2 separate regions of the Homo sapiens genome follow, and region 2 is linked to region 1. The links come from fine-mapping of genetic effects on gene expression. A gene starts in region 1. The other region holds a variant in brackets. All regions are shown on one strand. Distances are from middle to middle. Region 1 holds the start of THAP2 (THAP domain containing 2). Region 2 overlaps LGR5 (leucine rich repeat containing G protein-coupled receptor 5).

The links. PIP is the estimated chance that this variant, and not a neighbour inherited with it, causes the effect. A credible set is the group of variants that fine-mapping cannot tell apart.
Region 2: its variant is the best candidate, but not a certain one, in a credible set for the expression of THAP2 in whole blood (INTERVAL, PIP 0.66).

The regions. Positions count from the first base shown.
Region 1 is chr12:71,662,779-71,665,803 of GRCh38, forward strand. It overlaps THAP2 (THAP domain containing 2), which reads left to right and starts at 1,523. Exons shown (of 3, transcript NM_031435.4): 1 at 1,523-1,802. The coding sequence starts at 1,732. ZFC3H1 (zinc finger C3H1-type containing) reads right to left here and starts at 1,070. Exons shown (of 35, transcript NM_144982.5): 1 at 235-1,070. The coding sequence starts at 832. RefSeq lists enhancers at 693-812, 1,165-1,723, 1,173-1,532.
Region 2 is chr12:71,575,644-71,578,143 of GRCh38, forward strand. It overlaps LGR5 (leucine rich repeat containing G protein-coupled receptor 5), which reads left to right. Exons shown (of 18, transcript NM_003667.4): 14 at 2,282-2,353. LOC124902963 (a long non-coding RNA gene) reads right to left here. Exons shown (of 3, transcript XR_007063365.1): 3 at 1,300-1,388. Among named protein-coding and RNA genes, the nearest start is that of ZFC3H1, 87 kb to the right of the region's middle. The variant C/T (reference allele first, on the strand shown) is at 1,262.

The DNA of each region.
Region 1 (3,025 bases):
TTTCATAAGCTTAACCCAATCCACAGCACGTTAATATACCCAATGAAGCAGTCTTAAGAATAACGCTATAGTGTGACACATGGGGAATTACCAAAGAACAACTTAAAGTATACTGACACAGGGAGAAATAAGCGGTTCTGATGATTCAAAGTTACACTCGTCTCACAGACCTAGTAATGACGCTAAAGGGAACTTTAGTGACACACCCAGCGCCGACCGCCACGTTAAGGATACAGCTCTTCCGAGGTGGAGAGGGCTCTCGCCAGCTCTGACTGCTGCTGAACCCGGATCCTGCTCCTCCTCCCAGAGGAGGTCTGCACCCCGGCTTGCCTCCTCGCTCACCCACTCCTCGCCCCCGACTCCAGCGACTCCCACCCCGGTAAGGCCTGCCTCGAAAGCGGAAACGGTCCAAGGCGAGGTGGCTCCGCTCCCAGAAAGACGGCCGGGGACTGCTTTCGGACAGTGAGCTCGAAGGCATCCGTACAGAAGGCGGATGAGACCGGAACGGTTCTTTGGGTCGGTAGCTGCTGGGTCCCCTGAGGTGGCCCCGCTCAGACGCGTGCCGCGAGCGTGAGAAATTCCTCAGCTGCTGCTGAGAAGAGGACGATGACGAGGAAGAGCCACCGCCTCCGCCAGATCCACCGCCCCGGGCCGAGTGAGGAGGCCTTCGCCGCGGATAGGGTAACAGCCCGCCGCCGCTGCTGCTGCTGCTGCTCCGACTCCGTATCTGGCTGTTATTATCGTCGTCACTGATTTCCCCATCTTCAAGCTCCCCTTCTTCCTTCGGCGAGAGGCCACTGGAGGCCGGGGCCGGAGTATCTGCGGTCGCCATCCGGGGAGCAGCGCCTTCCACACAACCTTAGCCCTCCGTCCGGGGATCCGCCCGACAATTGCCTCGTTTCCCTTCTTTCCTAACGGACTGGGTCGGTGCGGTCTTACCCTACTCGGACACCAAGCGGCCTCTGCTCCCCAACTTCCCCGCACCCCAGCACCCCAGCTCTCTCTCGCCGGACCGTCGCAACCCAGTTCCCTTTCCTAGCGCCCCCTTGCTCCTCAGCGATCGGGGTTCTTCCGCCTCGCGAGAAAGGGACTCTGGTAGCGGCTGTACCCGAAACGTCACTTCCTGCGACACGCAGGAAACAAAGGCTCCCAGTTCACGCGATAATAAGACCAACTCGATACTCACTAGGATTTGTAGTCTTTCGTCTTTCTTCGGGTTTACTCTTCCGGTCCTAGGGTCACACCCACCGCAGGGTCTGGCTTGGTACAGTTGGGTGCATGCAGAAGTAGGTGGAGCTGCTGTTGCAGCCTTGAGAGAGTTTTATTGTAAAACTCTTGTAATTTATAGTAATCGGAGGGGAAAACACCTCTTCCTTTTAATTGCTCTGAGGACCGCTGCCAAAGAAACGCAGTAGATCCGCTCCCTCTTGGGGGCGGGGAGAAAGAACGGGTTGTGTCCGCCATGTTGGTGAAGTCAAGCGAAGGCGACTAGAGCTCCAGGAGGGCCAGTTCTGTGGGCTCTAGTCGGCCATATTAATAAAGAGAAAGGGAAGGCTGACCGTCCTTCGCCTCCGCCCCCACATACACACCCCTTCTTCCCACTCCGCTCTCACGACTAAGCTCTCACGATTAAGGCACGCCTGCCTCGATTGTCCAGCCTCTGCCAGAAGAAAGCTTAGCAGCCAGCGCCTCAGTAGAGACCTAAGGGCGCTGAATGAGTGGGAAAGGGAAATGCCGACCAATTGCGCTGCGGCGGGCTGTGCCACTACCTACAACAAGCACATTAACATCAGCTTCCACAGGTAACCTGGGCAGGGAGTGGGGGTGACGGAAACTGGAGTTCCTATTGTGGCTATCGCTTGTGTGGAAGGAACAGGAGGATTCTGCTAATTCTAATAACTTTCCCAGCTGGTAGCAGGGAAGCATCGTATGTCCTTTGTGTTTCTCAAATCTGCCCAATTGTTCTCTGCTTTCGGGGAAGCTTTACTCATTTTCTAAAAGAAATCCAAGTACTGTTTGGTCATTACCCCTTAGTAAAAAAAAGTAACAGGAGGATATCGTAATTTTCTACTGTTTTATTCCTCTGTTAGACCGGGCCTTGACATGAATGACGCCGTAAGGGAGAAAGAGATCTTCCCAATCAGCAATCACCGTAAAAGCCTGCTGTGTTCCCGTTAAAATTAGGAAATTCTCACTAGATGAATTGACATGGGAGGCATTTAGATTTCTAATAGTCACATAGTAATTCTGCGGAGGAATTGAGTCATCTTTGATAGCCATGGAATTAAGCGATGTTAATTAAAGTGCAAAAGATAACCTTTCTGTTCTTACTAGAATAGAGTAATAAAAAGAACCTAGGTTTTCTTTTGTTTGCTGGAAGAAAAATCAAAATTCTTTAGTTCTGTCAAACCAGAACTCTTGAAAGCACTTTGAACAATGCCTGGAAAATAACAGGTACTCTGTAAATGTTTACCTTCTCTGCAAGTGCCTGCCACGTGCCCGAAGAAAAGACACATTAAAAAGTTAAGTGACACCAGTCCTGATTTTATATATTTTATATACCTAACAACGTATATGTTAGTATGTAGAAATTATATCCTTGACCTTTTTCCCTACCTATTACGAACTGTACTTTTATTAAAAGCTGCCACTTAAAAAAAATCTTGTGATGTTTCTGTTTTTAAACTAGTTCATGCATATGTAGTGCTTTGTTCATTCATCCATCAAATATGTACGGAGTTCCTAATTACCTGACATTGTGCTAAGGATCCAGAAAGTTCTAACCCTCCTGGAATTTAGAATTTAATGGTGGAGAAAGACATAAATAATTAAGTGCCACAGAAGAAACATTCAGAGACCTAACTTAGTCTTGGAAAGTCAAAGAACACTTTTTCAAAGGATGTGACATTTCAAATGAGACCAAAGGATGACAGATTGGGTCCTGTGTGCTACTTAAGTATTTTCTGTTTTATCCTAAGAGTACTTGAGAAACCATGGAGGGTTTAAAAAAGAATGGCACGATTAG
Region 2 (2,500 bases), 87 kb before region 1:
GGGTTTGCAGTGAGCTGAGATCGCACTACCGCCCTCCAACCTGGGCGACAGAGTGAGACTCCATCTCAAAAAATATATATGTGTGTGTGTGTGTGTGTGTGTGTGTGTGTGTGTGTATCATTCTATTATAAAGATACATGCACACATATGTTCATTGCAGCACTATTCACAATAGCAAAGACATGGAATCAACCCAAATGCCCACCAATGATAGACTGGATAAAGAAAATGTGGTATATATACACCATGGAATACTACGCAGCCATAAGAAGGGATAAGATCATGTCCTTTACAGGCACATGGGTGGAGCTGGAAGCCATTATTCTCAGCAAACTAACACAGGAACAGAAAACCAAACACTGCATGTTCTCACTTATAAGTGGGAGCTGAACAATAAGAACACATGGACACAGGGAGAGAGATACCACACACCAGGGCCTATCAGGGTGGCAGGGGGAGGGAAAGCATCAGGATAAATAGTTAATGCATGCAGGGCTTAATACCTAGGTGATGGGTTGATAGGTGCAGCAAACCTACCATGGCACATGTTTACCTATGTAACAAACCTGCATGTCCTGCACGTGTATCCTGGAACTTAAAATTAAATTAAATTTTTTTAAAAGATGGTTCAAATGAAAAGACACTTACATAGGTGTTGGCAGGGAGCAAGCAAAGGATGGGTGTGCAGAAACCAGTAACATCTGGGGCTAGAGTCACAGGGAGGAAATGATGTTTCCAGGACAAAGAAAGAGCTTAAGCATGGAGAAGTGTTGCAGCCCTTGAGAAGTCTGTAGCTGCCATGAAAGACATGATTCCAAAACAGGGAAGAGAAGACCATGAGGGCCCTGACCTCCCTTTCCTTCTGGGGCTTCTCCTGAGAAAACAACTGAGGCCATTAGGGAGCTCTGGGGATGCAGCCTGCAGGATCAGCCCCAGGCACAAAGCAGAAAATGACTCCTCTGGGGCTGCTGGGAGGATTCCAGCGCACGGGCTCATGAATTGAAAAGGAATTACAGGCCTTTGAACATATAAATTCTCACATATTTACTTAAACCCCAGCCAAATCACTCTAAGCACCATGGCAGGACTTGGCCTACATTCCAGATATTCTGCTCTGTGAAGCTCTCCCAGGGCACCATGATCTACTTAAAGCTGCCAAAAAGACTCTGACAGATGGTATTACTTGCTCACCTCAGTGACACGTATTTCTTGAGCAGCTCAACAGAAGACAGTCTTCTCACTCAATTACCCAAAGCCCAGC[C/T]GCCATTTGTAGCTTTTCTACCTTCCATACGTTTCCTCCCCTTGTTAGCTGCAATTTTCTTCTGTTCTGGGATCAAGGAAAAGACTTCCAGTTTCCTCCAGGAAAGGAGGACAGGTCCCTAAGGAACCTTTCAAATGAGAATGTAAATATTCTGTGAATACCATTTATTAAGGTAACCCTGGAGCCCAATATCATAAACTTTTCTACACTTAAGAAAAGTTGACTTTGTTTACTTTCAGTTCTCTCAAATGCCTACATCTTAGTTACCATTGTTAGTCATTTACAAAAATTAAAAATCTTAAATTCATCCTTCCTTTTTAAAAATGTAGTTCTTATTCCTGATAAATTATCTACAGAAGTTTTTGCAAAATGCTTTACTCCTACTTAATTATCTGCAGTTCATTACTTGTCCATGGGAAGTGAATTTTATTTCCCCATAAACTGTACTTTTTCTTTACTATCAAAGAATTTTATTTCTAACATATGTTGGCCCCTATTTTATTCATATCCTGGCTAATAATTTACTTGTCAGTATCCTTCCTGGAAATTTTCTTGAAAGCATCTTTGTGTTTCTTTCAAGGCCTAACATATATGAGTGATGTGCCCAAATTTTTTTGAGTTTCATTACATATCCAAGGACATTTTATAATTTAACACTTACTTGTCAGAAGAAGAGACTCAGAAGTTTCTGTCCCTTCCCACAGTGCTACAACCACTCATTTTAGAAAGGCCCTAATAAAATTTTACAACCATGTTAAAGTCAACCTTTTAGCAAGAGTAAAACCAAAATATCCACCTGAACGATGTTTCCTTGATTGGTTTTAACAAGCTTGATTTAAAGTTCTCTCATTAGTCATTTTATACCACTAATATGATAATCTGAAGGGCAGTTTGATAAGTTAATTGTTTCTGATCTGAATGGAAATTAAATTAATTTTGGTAGAAGACTAAATGCATATGATAAAACTTCACATGTTCTTTATTCTATATAATTCTCTCATTTGCCTTTTTTTACAATAGGAATTTGGCTTGGAACAAAATTGCTATTATTCACCCCAATGCATTTTCCACTTTGCCATCCCTAATAAAGCTGTGAGTATTCCACAACTTGTTTATGGTATGTCTCTTAATAATTGAGGACCATCTAGTTAATTTTAAAAGTTGGTTTTGTTGAAGAAGCTGGATATGCACAGATTACCTGCCTCTGTGTTCTCCATGCCTAGAGCTTGTCAGAGCCAG